4 linked regions of the Homo sapiens genome follow. The protein of the gene in region 1 interacts with the protein of each later gene in a biochemical or structural test. Each region holds a gene or a part of one and is shown in the gene's direction. Other genes may lie near its edges.

Region 1 (4,206 bases):
CTGGGAAGTGGAGGTTGCAGTGAGCTGAGATCGTGCCACTGCACTCCAGCCTGGGCAACAGAGTAAGATTCTGTCTCAAAAAAAAACCAAAAACCAAAAAACCACAAAACAAAAAAATCACATACCCTTTGACAGAAAATTTGTCTTACAGAACATTTCACATATATGCAAAGATAAATGTACAAATAATTTATACCAAAGCATAATTAAAATGGTAAAAGTTAGAAACATACTGCATCACTATAAAATGAGAAGTGTTAAATTATGCTCCTAAGCAGTTATTAAGAAGAGCTAACCTGATGGTATCCCAATCCAGTAACAGAAGATGGCTATGATGGCACTGGGAGGGCAAGGTAGAAAGGGCCAAATAAGCTGGAGAACAGAGCATGCAATCCATCCCCATGATCTTACCCTGGGAGCTTGTCCACTATCCTGTTGTCAGTCTACCTACCTATTCCCAATCATCTGTGGCCTTTCCTTTGCCAAGGAAGTCTATTCAATTGGAAAAGAATCCCCTGTCATGTTAGCACTTAATATTACCTGGAGGTAGGAGAAAGGAGAACTTCGTTCATCTTATTTCCTGGGGACTTAGTCCCCAGAGTGTTAATATTTCCTCCTCTCCAAGAAACTGAGGCAGATTCTGCTCTCTGTCCTCTTGGCCACTGGTTCCAAGTCTTTCTTTAGGCATGACCCTCTTTTGTTGTATATGTGTCCTTTGCTCCTTCCATGGATTCCCATGATGTGAGAGATTTTATCTGCCAAATAGTAACGTAATTTTTCCCTTCCAAATTAACAAAGCCTTCCGTAACTGTATACACTAAAGTCAGTGCCCTAAAGGTTGGGAAAATCATGTCTTCAGAGTGTACCGTGCTAAACGCTTTACATGAATTATTTTATTTAGTTTTTAAAACAATCCCATAAGGTCGGTTTTATTTACATTTTACAGAAAAGGAAACAATATTCTCAGTCACATAGTAAGTGGAAGAACCACTTATATAAAAGAAGTATATGAAAATGCATAGAAAATAATCTGGGAAATTATTTCTGGGAGATGGAGAGTGGTGAAGAGCTTTCAGTTTTTTCTCCGCCACTTCCTCTTTTTTTTTTTAGACAAAGTCTCACTCTGTCACCCAAACTGGAGTGCAGTGGCATGATATCGCTCACTGCACCCTCCGCCTCCCAGGTTCAAGTGATTCTTGTGCCCCAGCCTCCCGAGTAGCTGGGATTACAGGTGTGCACCACCACGCCCCACTAATTTTTGTATTTTTAGTAGAGACAGGGTTTCACCATTTTGGCCAGGCTGGTCTCGAACTCCTGACCTCAGGTGATCCACTCGCTGGGATTACAGGTGTGAGCCCCCATGCCTGGCCTCTCTACTTCTTTTTTTTTTTTTTTTTTTTTGAGATGGAATCTCGCTCTGTCACCCAGGCTGGAGTGTAGTGGCACGATCTCGGCTCACTGCAAGCTCTGCCTCCCAGGTTCACGCCATTCTCCTGCCTCAGCCTCCCAAGTAGTTGGGACTACAGGTGGCCGCCACCACGCCCGGCTAATTTTTTGTATTTTTAGTAGAGACAAGGTTTTACCATGTTAGCCAGGATGGTCTCGGTCTCCTGACCTCAGGTGATCCACCTGCTTCGGCCTCCCAAAGTGCTGGGATTACAGGCGTTAGCCACTGCGCCTGGCCTCCGGCCCTCTACTTTTATATTGTTTAGATTTTTAATATAAGCATATAGTTGTTTTGTAATTTCAAAAAAAAATTCTCAAAGATAAGAAAGAAAATTTGGGCTGGGTGCAGTGGCTCACGCCTCCCAGCACTTTGGGAGGCCAAGGTGGGTGAATCACCTTAGGTCAGGAGTTAAAGACCAGCCTGACCAACGTGGAGAAACCCCATTTTTACTAAAAAATGCAAAATTAGCCGGGCGTGGTGGTGCATGCCTGAAATCCCAGCTACTTGGGAGGCTGAGGGAGGAGAATCCCTTGAACCCGGGAGGCAGAGGTTGTGGTGAGGCAAGATCATGCCATTGCACTCCAGCCTGGGCAACAAGAGCGAAACTCCGTCTCAGAAAAAAAAGAAAGAAAAAATTTGGTTCTCCTAGGCCTTTAACATAAAATGTTCTAAAGGATTTTCCTCATAATTTAAATGGGAATTATGACTCCAAAGTAGATTTCTAGAGTAGAAATTACCCTTTAGCATCATTCACTTAAACTTTGTAGAAAAATTCAAAGGTATCTGGTATGGAATGGGTAGTCTAAAGCAGAGATTTCCTTGAGTGGCTCATAAGACAGTTTTCATGGCATTTCATTTACTTCTCTTTTCTTTCCTTTTTGTTTTCTCTTTAAAATTCTTTCTACTTATTTTTCTGTTTTCTCCAATTGTTCATTTTAAACATCTTGTTTATACTATTGGAGTAAATATGTTTTTTTCTTCTTTCTTGCTCACACTCGAAATTTGCTATAGACACTCCGAGGGCATTGACTAGTCCCTTTAGTACCCCTAAAGAATGAACTGCTCAATAAAGTGAAGTATAAGTTTGATATAGACATGCTAAAATTAACTGGGCTTTGGATCATGGCCCATTATTGATTAAAGCTAAGGTAAATGGTCTTCCAAGTTTCTGTACTTTTGAATTGATCAGTCTTGTGTTGGTATGCAGTTCTAGAATTTTATTACTGGCCAGGTGTGGTGGCTCACGCCTGTAATCCCAGCACTTTAAGAGGCCGAGGCGGGCAGATCACTTGAGTCCAGGAGTTCAAGACCAGCCTGGGCAATGTGGCAAAACCCTATCTATAAAAAAATTTAATCGGGTGTGGTGGTGCACACCTATGGTCTCAGCTATTTGGGAGGTGAGATGGGAGGATCTCCAGAGCCCGGAAGGCAGAGGTTGCAGTGAGCCAAGATTGCACCACTGCACTCCAGCCTGGGCGGCGGAGTGAGACCCTGTCTCCAAAACAAAAAAAGGCCAGGTGCAGTGGCTCGTGCCTATAATCCCAACACTTTGGGAGGCCAAGGCAGGCAGATCACCTGAGGTCAGGAGTTCAAGACCAGCCTAGCCAACTTGGTGAAACCCTGTTTCTACTAAAAATACAAAAATTAGCTGGGCGTGGTGGCATGGACCTTTAATCTCAACAACTCAGGAGGCTGAGGCAGGAGAGTTGCTTGAACCCAGGAGGTGGAGGTTGCAGTGAACCGAGATAACGCCACTGCACTCCAGCCTGGGCAACAGTGAGACTATCGCAAGAAAAAAAAAAAAAAGAAGAAAAGAATTTTATTACCTACTTTGGGCTATATTTCTAAGCAGTCCAGTTCTGACAGGACTAGCTGTATGTACTGAGACACAATCAGCTTTACATATTTTTCTAGCTGTATTTCTATTAATATCAGAAGGGAATGCCTCCTTCCTACCACTGTCATTTTTAAATGTTTTTTTCCCTTTGCCTTGGAGGAATTATAAAGATGTCATGAGGAGCTTGGTCAGCTGTATCAGAAATACAATGTTCATTTCTACTGTTGTTTTTGTTCTCTATAGCTTCCCATTGACCGGGGTGGAGGTGAAGGAAAGGCCATGTACATTGACACTGAGGGTACCTTTAGGCCAGAACGGCTGCTGGCAGTGGCTGAGAGGTAGGTTACTGGTTTAGATAAGAGAGACTATGGCTACACTTATCAATGTAGTGATTGCCAGGGTTAGTTTGGCCGAAGAATGTCTCTTCTATAACCCCACGTCCCAAAGTTGTATGTGTGGTTCAAAAGAATGACTTCCTTAGTAGAAAAAGGCATTCTTTTTTTTTTTTTTCTTCAGATGGAGTCTCGCTCTTGTCACCCAGGCTAGAGTGCGGTGGCGTGATCTCAGGTCACTGCAACCTCTGCCTCCCGGGTTCAAGCAACTCTCCCACCTCAGCCTTCCTAGTAGCTGGGATTACAGGCGCACACCACCACACCCAGCTAATTTTTTGTATTTTTAGTAGAGATGGGGTTTCACCATATTGGCCAGGCTGGTCTCAGACTCCTGACCTCAGGTGATCCACCTGCCTTGACTTCCCAAAGTGCTGGGATTACAGGTGTGAGCCACCGCACCCGGCCAGAAAAAGGCATTCTTTAGAGTTGCTGTCAGACTGGATTTAAAAAAAAAAAATCCAACTATATGTTTTCTTCCAGAGAAACCCTTTAGAAAGTAAAAGAATGGAGAAAGATATTGCATGCAAATA
Region 2 (3,852 bases), on another chromosome or scaffold:
CCAGCCTAGAGTCAAAGCATAACTTCCCTTTTAAGCAGGGAGGGTTTTAAAAAAATAACATACAAGAAAAGATGATAATTTTTTAGTGACTCTGATGTCACCCTGTATCGCTTTCATCGTGGCCCCCACATGTGTGTGTTGATTGACATAATCTGTTATTCAGCTGTCTTTAAAATGAGGAGGCCTGAGAACCTCATCCCAGCACCTGCAGGCTGGCACCTGCTTTTGCCTCTCGACCAGAGCCTCCCGGGACTTACTCGTTCACCACACAGATACGCAGGGCGTTCCTGATTCTCGTGTGGGGATGTAGTGAGCAGAGGAGACAAAGCAAAGACCTCTGCCCACGGTGACAAGGGAGAGGTTCTTTGCTTCAGATCAGAATGACACATCAGGTTGGGTGGCCGCCTGTCAACAGCTCAAATGCTGTGCATTCTGCTTCATCAAGTGGAAGGATTACTCTTATTACTTAATCAGTGGCATGTTCCTGATGCTGAAAAACCATCCTGACGCACATGCCATGCATGATGAGTGTTAGGTGTCCCCACTGCTGGATGAACACGTCCACTGTTCGAGCACTGCCACAGACCTATTACACGGGCAGGTGTGTGTGCTGCACAGGGGGAGCAGGCCAGTCCACGGGGTGCTCATGAGAAGTCAGTGAGATGACATACGGGAGGCATCCGGCCCAAGGGGGGCTCAGGGCTTGCGGGTGTTGAGGGCCAGAAGGAAGTTCTATATCACCCTGCTGAGAGCCTGTAGCTCCCTGTAGCCTTCCCCTTCCCCAGCTTTGTCCACTGGCTCGATTCTCTCCCCACTGAGATTTTGCGTTTTCACTTTTAAATATTTAATGTTTTGCTAATTATAAAAGTCATATGTGTTCATTGGGAACATTTGGAAAACTGAGGTTTTATGAAGTGTCCAATGATGTCCTGCCCTGGCCCCAGGTGGCCTTCCTAAACAGACTCCCTTCTTCTCCATTTTAGGAAGATCCTAGTACCTCCCCCTCTCCGGGGACCCGAGCAGCCAGCCAGCCACCTAACTCCTCAGGTGAGAGGGCGCCCCCCGCTGACCCCAGTGAGGCATGAGGTCTCAGAGTGGGAGGGGGGACCCTTCGGACAGGACCCTCTGATCCAGCCTCTTTAGTATGCCTGAGCAGAGGGCCAGGCCACAGGGAAGCCCATTTCTTATGGGTCCCCCAGAGCCTCCCCCAGGAGCCCATGTGGGAGCACAGGAAGTGCTAGAGCAGAGCCACTGTGATGGGTCCCCAGGGTGACCTGCGTGTCACCTTCCCACCAGGACCCTGAGTCCCGCACGAGAGAAGGCACTTGCCTGACGGCACATATTCAGGGTGGGAGTTTGTGTCCAGGGCTCCTGAGGCAGGCTGGGGCCAGTGCTCTTAAGAGGTATCAGTGTCAGGACTCATGTCTCCCAGTGAAACGCCAGCTGATGACCGACATTACAGAGATGGCAGTAGATCTCGCTCCACCCAAAACGCAGCCCCTTCCCTGGCTCAGGTTTCTCTCTGTCTAAGCTGTGGCAGATGGGAGGTAGTTAGGAGAGTATGATGAGGCTTCGCAGGGGAGGAAGACCCCAGGGTTGGTTGTTCATTCGACAAACATCTTTGCAGCACCTGCTCTGTGCCAGGCCTGTGCTCATGAGCACAGCGAGGAGAGACAGGGGCATCAGGCTGCCCTAGCTGGGCAGAGGAGGCTCTTGCCAGCTGTTCGCGTGTGTCTCTGGGGCATGCTCAGGTTGGGTGTCGCCTCCCTGTGAAACTGCACGCCATGTCCTCTCCTCCTAAGATTTTTGCCTGGTGTCTTGATTTGCCAGGATGCATAGGTTCCTGGCTGATGAACGTGATCAATACCCCTGCCCTGTTTGCTTCTTCCAACAGCCCAGTGAGTGGGCTACGTGGTTCCCATCTGTGTGCAAAGTGGTTTGCTCAAGGCCACACACCTGGGACATGTCTGTAGCCCCAGGTCTAGTGCCTGCAGGCCCAGCGCCTGTCCCAGAAGGTGGCTTTGAGGAAAACTGCCTCAATCCCACCGTTGGTCCGCAGGGTGCCAAGGCTTAGCTCTGGGCCAGGCAGCTGCCCCACTACCCCCTAGAGATTTTGTCTTCTGCCTCTGCTTGTCCTGCACAGTCAACGAATTCAAGTTAATGCAACAAATCTTTTGGAGTAGAACAAAATATAATCCAATACCACTTAAAAAAGACAAGCCAGCCAGAATGGGACAGAGCCAGGCGCAGCATGGGAGGCAGACTAAGGAGCCCCTCAGTAGCAGGTGCCGGGCCGAGGGGCCTGGCCGCCACACCACACGTGGGAGCAAGGCTGTGCTGGGATGTCCGGGGAGGTCGTGCTTGCTCGCCCTGTGGCTCTAGTCACTGGGTCCCTTACCAGCAGGCTCACATTCCAGAGAGACCTGGCACAGTGAAGGGCTCAGAACCAGATCACAGGTCAGGGTCAACCTGACCTAGGCCATGGGGGACTGAGAACAAGGTGCCAGGTTTTGGCTTAACTCAATCAGACCTTCCTGCCACGGGGCTCTGCACCCTTGGCATGGGTGAGGGCTTCCTGTTGGGGTGTTTAGGGGATTGGGGTGGCTACTGAGTCCCTTCACCTGTGAGGTTCTTCATCCATGAAATGAACTGACAGAGGCTGGCCGGAAGCCCTGGGAGCGGAGCAACTCGGTGGAGAAGCCTGTGTCCTCGATTCTGTCCAGGTGAGCTGCCCCAGGAAGGCCTGAGCAGCGAGGCTGGTGGGGCAGAGGCGGGCGCTGGCGCCGATTCACATGTCTGTTTCATTCCATTGCCGTAGAACCCCGTCTGTGGCAAAGAGCCCCGAAGCTAAGAGCCCCCTTCAGTCGCAGCCTCACTCTAGGTACCGAACAACCCTCCTGCTCACATGTCCCCCAGGGTTTGGGGCTCCTCTGTCCCCCGTCCCGTGACTAACACCCTTGCACGCTGTCTCACGTCCTGGCATTTAACAACTTGCTCTGCGAAGGTGGTCTGTTCTTTCAGACCCAGGACCTCGGGGTCCTGTCAGTCAGCTGCTCCGTCTTTTCCCTCTGAGAGAGAGACCAAGGGCAAGGAGGGCAGTGACCTGTCCACAGAGGTAGTGCAGGGGGGGGCCAACATGGAGTCCCAGCTCTGGACTCACTACGTGTGACAGTGGGCAAGTTAGGGGACCTCTCCAAGCCTCTGTTTTCCCCCCACAAAGTGAGGTCTGTTAACCCCTGCTGCACAGGGTGGTGGTGGGGACAGCTGTGAGCAACAGCTGGACATGGGGTGTGGTCACTAGCCAGGGCTGCACCCTACAGTTCAACCAGTCCTAGCACTGGCGCTGAGCCCTACCCCTTTCCTCCAGCCCAGAGTCCTTCCTCTGCGGCCGGCACACAGAATCAGTTTCCCCACAGACATACTGACCATATTTCCCAAGCCAAAAGCTGGCATGACAACATGATAGAATATTTGGAACTGAGATTGCCCAAAAAGGCAGAGGCAGCCAGCCACATAGTATCTGGAGGTACATGTGGCCTGAATTGGAAGGCCTCTAGAACCTGCGTCAAGAATGTCTCCATCGCCACCACAAATTGAAGGGAAACCACCCTTATCACAGAGCAGGAGGCATTGAAACTGGCCTTGCAGAGCTGAACAGGTGGTGAGAGCAGAGCAGTGCAGGTGGACAGAGATGAGGAAGTCTTAGCAGTCAGCTGGGGTTTGTCCAAGGCTTGTGGTCAGCCAGGCCGTGTGCTGGGGACAGTCCCTGCCTGCAAAGAGCACCGTGTGAACAAGGCCACTGTGGTCCTGAGGGGTGCTCTGGACAGGGTGCAGGGCCACATGGTGGAAGGG
Region 3 (2,645 bases), on another chromosome or scaffold:
TCTTTGTTGATTTTTCCACTCAGCAGCCTCATGATTATTAGTGTTTTTGTTTTGTACTTGGTGGCCTCAATTTTTTTCTTTTGGTTTTTTAAATTCTAGCAAAGAATTTTTCATCTTTTCTAAGAATTTAGCTGATAGAAGAGCATTTCATCATCTTGTTTGTGATTGTAAACAATTTATACATGCAGTTAGTGACCAGCCACCTCCCATTAGGAAAGCCAATAGACACAAACCTGAAGGACAGATTTGGTATACTTGTTACTTAAATTGTAGGTTGAACTTTGGGGTTTTTTTGTTCATTGTTTTTGTTGCTGCTGTTAAAGTGAATATTCTACAGAGTAGAAAACTAAGGTTTAAGAAAGTTGTAAAATTACTTTTATTTTAAATAAATTATAAAATTTTAACATGAGATAAAATTCAAAGACAGTTACCACATTCCCTCAAGATTGGCAGCAAGAGTTTTTGTATGAAACATTTGAGTTTTCTGTGATCATCAGAATCTTTTAGCTTTTCCTTTCAGCCTTGACTCTTATTTTAATGTATACTACATTACATTTGTATAACTTTCTCTCATTTAGCTCTCAAAACAATGGAGATAAGTTGTTATAAATGAAGGGCAGATACTATAATCTCCAGTTTCCTGAGGGGCAGGGGAAGGGCCCAAAGGAAGCAAATTAGTTAGCAAAGGAAGGGCCAGAGTCAGAGTCTTGCACTGGAGTCTTGACTCCTAATCCAGGGTTTATACCACCACCCCATAGCAGAAGACAAGGATGATTCATTTGAACAATCTGTGGCCTTGATATAATTTATGGAAATTAGCTCACTATTTGTATTCTAAATAACTAAAAATTTTAGGAAAGCAAAGGAGTTTTGAGAAATGAATGCTAAATACTATACATTATTCCGGTCATGTGTTTGCATTGGAATAGTGTAGTGGTGTCTAAGCCAAATTTACTTGAGAACAAATGTCTATCTTATTGGATGTAATGATGTAAAGCATATTAATCATACTTTAAGTTTACTCAGTGTTTTATCATGGATTAGCCATCTACTAATTTTGTCATAAACTTTGAATTGTGGCAAATAAGGTTAGAGCAATACATATATGTCAATATGGAAAGCAATCTGTTTATTCTTTCTGCATATACAACAGTAATATAGTAATACCTGTTATGATCATTGTAAAATCCCTAAAGGTTTGATAGTGATGTGTACTTTGCCTGAGGTTAATGAGTCTCAAAACTTATGTTTAAATATTTATTAGGAACAGAACATTCATATAGCATTTGGAAAGTATTTGAAGGATAGCAGTAAGTCCCTCACATTTCTTCCACAAATAGACTTATAAGAAAATTAAGGAAGATAAAATACAAGTTAAATAATGGGAAAAACAAAATTTTATAGTATTATATTGACTCATATCCAATTTTCTTATGTTTTTTTTTCAGAGACAAAAGTAAAACTATTCAGTGGTATTGTAAATTGATGTCTCAGGCATAGCTCATTTATTTGTTTATTTATTGTATTGTTTCTAAAAGAATGTTTATTATAAAGAATACCTAGTGATGTTCTTTCTGTTTTATCTTAGAGCTGAACTAGAGAAACATGGTTATAAGATGGAGACTTCATAGCATCCAGAAGAAGTGTTGAAGTAACCTAAACTTGACCTGCTTAATACATTCTAGGGCAGAGAACCCAGGATGGGACACTAAAAAAATGTGTTTATTTCATTATCTGCTTGGATTTATTTGTGTTTTTGTAACACAAAAAATAAATGTTTTGATATAATCTTGGTTTGGTTCAGAAGTCTTAATCTTTTGCTTCTAATCAATTTTCTTGTCATGATTTTCCAAAACCTTATTATATATAGATAGTAAAATTTCATATTATGAAATTTTCTTTTTTTTTTTTAATGTTAACTGAGTGAGGCTCAGGTTAAATGATCTGGAGTAGATTTCACCTGATTCCCAATTCAGTACTTTTCTTAAACCACATCAATTAATTGTTACTTCTATTTTATAAGGAATTTCTTTTACATCACATTGAACCTTAATCTCTTCTGTATTTTGATAGCTTAGGCAACATTTGCTGACATTTATAAGGTGACCTTTCAAAACCTGTGTTTTAAAAATATTAATCATTTTAAATTGCTGTAATTTACTTAGTTCCTGAGCCATTAATAATATTATTAATGGTTGTTAGCGTATTATTGGTACTTAAAGTCCAAAGTAGTTTAATCACAGTAAGAATGGTGTCTTCTATTAAAATTGAGGAAGTGGGCTCAAGATACTTTATCAACAAGTGCATATTTTCAGGTACTACATAGCAGGCTCATTTAGTACAACTGAGTTTTCACAGAGTGATAGCTGTTGCCACATCACTTTTGTGAATGGGAGATTTAATTTGGTTTGTAAAGGATTCTTTGTGATGACTTAAATGTACGGGGTATTTTTTAGGAATATTTTCAAATGTAAATGTTGTTACTAAGAACTACAATCAATCTGTAGTGTTGAGTAATTTCAAATGTAAAATTTATGTAACAATGCAGTGCAGATACCAAAATAGGGGTTGGTGGCCTGAAATACAAGTTATACTTCAAAATGATTTTGAGCATAAATATGTTTCTGTTTTTAAGACAAGCATAA
Region 4 (3,852 bases), on another chromosome or scaffold:
GCCACCATGCCTAGCTTTGATATGTGACTTTTTATTCTGGTTTGTTTCTTCTTTTCTGCCTTGCTTCCCTGTTCCTCTTCCCCTCCCTCCCCTCCCCCCCTCCCCATCCCCGTCTCCCTCTCCAGGGTTCTCGCTATGTTGCTCAGGCTGGTCTTGAACTCTTGGGCTTAAGTGATTCTCCCTCTTTGGCCTAAAGTTCTGGGATTATAGGTGTGAGCCACTATGCCTGGCCTGGCTTCTTTGTTTTAGCATGTTTTCAAGGTTCATTCATGCTGTAGCATGTATCAGTACTATATTCCTTTTAATGGCTGAATTCTGTTCCATTATATGGGTAGAATATATTTTGTTTTCCATTTATCAGTTGATATTTAGTTTGTCCCCATATTTTGGCTACTATTAATAATGTTGCTGTGAACATTCATGTGTGTTTTTGTATGGACATATGTTTTCAGCTCCCTTGGATATATACCTAGGAGTGGAATTGCTGGGTCTAGTATGCAACTATATGTTTTACTTTTTGAGGAACTGCCAAACTGTTTTCAGCAGTGGCCCTACCATCTTACATTCCTAGCAGCAACATATGAGGGTTTCAGTTTTTCCATATTCTGGTCAACACTTGTAATTATCCGTATTTTTGGTTATAATCCTAGTGGGTGTGAAGTGGTATCTCACTGTGGTTTCAACTTGCTCTTTCCTGATGGCTAATGATGCCAAGCATTTTTTTATGTACTTATTGGCCATTAGTACATCTTCTTTGGAAAAATGAAGTTCTTTAGATCTTTTGCCCATTTTTAAATTGGGTTAGTTGTCTTTTTATTGTTGAGTGGTAATATGTCTTTTATTCTGGGTATTAGACCTTTATCATATATATGATTTGCATGGATTTTCTCCTATCTTTGAGTTGTCTTTTCACTTTCTTGGTTTTATTCTTTGCAGCGTAAAGTTTTTAATTTTGGTAAATTAAGTTCATCTGTTTTTTCTTTTGTTGCTTGTAATTTATCTAAGAAACCATTACCTAATCCAGGGTCACAAAGGTTTACGCTTGTGGTTTAAGAGTTTTAAGGCTGGGCACAATGGCTCACACCTGTAATCTCAGCATTTTGGGAGGCCAAGGTGGGCAGATTGCTTGAGCTCAGGAGCTGGAGACCAGCCTGGGCAACATGGCGAAACCCCATCTCTACAAAAAATATAAAAAATTAGTAGGGCGTGGTGGCACATGCCTGTAGTCCCAGCTACTCAGGAGGCTGAGCAGGGAGAATCACTTGAGCCTGGGAGGTCAAGGCTGCAGTAAGCTGTGATCACGTGACTGTACTCCAGTCTGGGTGACAGAGTGAGACCCTGTCTCAAAAAAAAAAAAAAAAAAGTTTTATGGTTTTATTTATAGTTTTAGCTCTTACATTTAAATCTTTCATCATTTTGAATAATTTTTTATGGGTGTTTGTCCCAGACCATTAGTTGAAAAGACTGTCCTTTTCTCACTGAATTGTTCTGGTATCCTTGTCAAAAAATTGACTATAGATATAAGGGTTTTTTCTTGGCTCTCAATTTTATGCCATTGATCTATCTATATGTCCATATGCCATGGAATGTCTTTTTAAGAATTATTAATTTGTGGGATTTTTAAAAATATTGTCTTCATTTTCCTTGTCTGTTACATGTTATGAATATTTCCTCCAGTATGTCTTAACTTTTGTTTATGGCATCTTTTACTATACAGACGTTTTATGTTTTTATTAAGTCAAATTTATCCACCTCTTTTTTTTATGGTTTCTAGGTTAAAATCATGCTTTGCAATAGGGCATCCCAAGGCCAAAATTAGGGGAAAAAAATTCTCCCTTGAGGGGAAAATATTGAGAATTTTTTTTTTTTTTTTTTTGATGTGGAGCCTTGTCCTGTCATGCAGGCTGGAGTGCAGTGGTACTTCCGGCTCACTGCAACATCCGCCTCCCAGGTTCAAGCACTTCTCCTGCCTCAGCCTCCCGAGTAGTTGGGATTACATGCAACTGTCACCACACCCGGCTAATTTTTTATATTTTTAGTAGAGATAGGGTTTCATCATGTTGGCCAGGCTGGTCTTGAACTCCTGACCTCGTGATCTGCCCGGCTTGACCTCCCAAAGTGTTGGGATTACAGGAGTGAGCCACTGCACCTGGCCAAAAAAATTTTAATGTTAGCTCTTTAATTCATCTGCAAGTGATTTTTTTTTTTTTTTTTTGAGATGGCGTCTCACTCTGTTGCCCAGGCTGGAGTACAGTGGCGAGATCTAGGTTCACTGCAGCCTCCGCGTCCTGGGTTCAAGCGATTCTCCTGCCTCACCCTCCCGAGTAGCTGGGATTACAGGCATGCGCCACCACGCCTGGCTAATTTTTTTGTATTTTTAGTAGAAATGGCGTTCACCATGTTGGTCAGGCTGGTCTCGAACTCCTGAACTCAAATGATCCTCCTGCTTTGGCCTCCCAAAGTGTTGGGATTATAGGCATGAGCCACCATGCCCAGCCTGGAATTGATTTTAATGTATAGCATGAGGTTTGCTGTAGAATTTTATCTGTTTATGAAATGATCTATGTGAAGATAATTTTATTTCTTCATAGTTACAGTCACAAGAAAAATACTGTAAATGTGCAGCTTCTGCAAATACACATTTGTGAATGTGATATGTAGTCATGAAGTTTGGCTTTGAAAGTTTACATTATGCAAGTAACAGTATTTTTTCTGAGGATTGGCTGGCTGATAGTTTGTTTCACAATCTGAGCAGAATAAAATAATTTTTGGTCTCACAAATCAGTTTGACTAACTCAGGTTCTTACTCATTTTACTCATGTGAGAGAAACCAGATTCCATGTGGTGATTTTTTTTTTTTTTTTTTTTTTGAGATGGAGTACTGTTCTGTTTCCCAGGCTGGAGTGCAGTGGCGTGTTCTTGGCTCACTGCAACCTACACCTCCTGGGTTCAAGCAATTCTTCTGCCTCAGCCTCCTGAGTAGCTGGGACTACAGGTGTGTGCCACCATGCCTGGCTAATTTTTGTATTTTTAGTAGAGACGGGGTTTCACTATACTGGCCAGGCTGGTCTTGAACTCCTGACCTTGTGATCCGCCTGCCTTGGTCTCCCAAATTGCTGGGATTACAGGCATGAGCCACTGCGCTCAGCCCCATGTGGTGATTTTTTATGGCAGGAATAAATTTCTCAGTCGCTTATTGTATAAAATTGAATTTTATACAATTAATTATTATCTAATTAACTGCTTTTCTCCTAGGCGACCACCTTCAGTGACACTTCACTTGGGGGGACAGACTTTTTGTTTTGAGTTGCTATTGGGATAAATAAAAGATGCGATAGTTCATCTTTTATTTTGACAATAGAATGGCAAATGAAGGAATGCATTTACTTAGACTTTTACTTATACTGATAATTTTAACACTCAAGACTGATTAACTTTGTTTTACTCGGTTTCTTTTGTAATGGGTATACAGTAACTTTGAGGATGATTACACTGTTTTAAGAAAACCTGTTAAGAATGCTAAAAAGAATATTGTGGTGGAAAAATACAGGTTACAAGGTTTATGTTTCTATTTGCACTATATGTGTAATTAAATAGTTTGGTTCAAGTAAAGCAAATGATTTATACAAAGAGGGATAATTTTTTTCTTTTTTATCTCCTTAGGATAGCAGTGAGATTCACTTCAAAGTGAAAATGACAACACATCTCAAGAAACTCAAAGAATCATACTGTCAAAGACAGGTTCGTCCATTTTGGTATTAAGTACAATGCTTTGTCGTTAATTTTTTTTTTTTTATAGAAGATTGTCAGAAGAAAAATCCTGTTTTATTATTTTCACCATTAGCAACTCAA

The links. Proteins that work in one complex are often made in the same cells at the same time.
Region 2: the proteins of RAD51 (region 1) and EVL form a complex in vitro, tested with the Homo sapiens proteins (2 studies listed by BioGRID and IntAct).
Region 3: the proteins of RAD51 (region 1) and SEM1 form a complex in vitro, tested with the Homo sapiens proteins (2 studies listed by BioGRID).
Region 4: the proteins of RAD51 (region 1) and SUMO1 form a complex in vitro, tested with the Homo sapiens proteins (2 studies listed by BioGRID and IntAct).

What each region holds. Positions count from the first base shown.
Region 1 is NC_000015.10:40,715,278-40,719,483, forward strand, and holds part of RAD51 (DNA repair protein RAD51 homolog 1), read left to right. Parts: intron 1-3,527; coding exon 3,528-3,622; intron 3,623-4,206.
Region 2 is NC_000014.9:100,134,922-100,138,773, forward strand, and holds part of EVL (ena/VASP-like protein), read left to right. Parts: exon of another isoform or gene 1-977; intron 978-983; coding exon 984-1,047; intron 1,048-2,656; coding exon 2,657-2,723; intron 2,724-2,818; coding exon 2,819-2,881; exon of another isoform or gene 2,882-3,852. UniProt on the Homo sapiens protein: Ena/VASP proteins are actin-associated proteins involved in a range of processes dependent on cytoskeleton remodeling and cell polarity such as axon guidance and lamellipodial and filopodial dynamics in migrating cells.
Region 3 is NC_000007.14:96,687,910-96,690,554, reverse strand, and holds the end of SEM1 (26S proteasome complex subunit SEM1), read left to right. Parts: intron 1-1,588; coding exon 1,589-1,631; 3' UTR 1,632-1,793; downstream 1,794-2,645. UniProt on the Homo sapiens protein: Component of the 26S proteasome, a multiprotein complex involved in the ATP-dependent degradation of ubiquitinated proteins.
Region 4 is NC_000002.12:202,214,246-202,218,097, reverse strand, and holds part of SUMO1 (small ubiquitin-related modifier 1 isoform a precursor), read left to right. Parts: intron 1-3,663; coding exon 3,664-3,741; intron 3,742-3,852. UniProt on the Homo sapiens protein: Ubiquitin-like protein that can be covalently attached to proteins as a monomer or a lysine-linked polymer.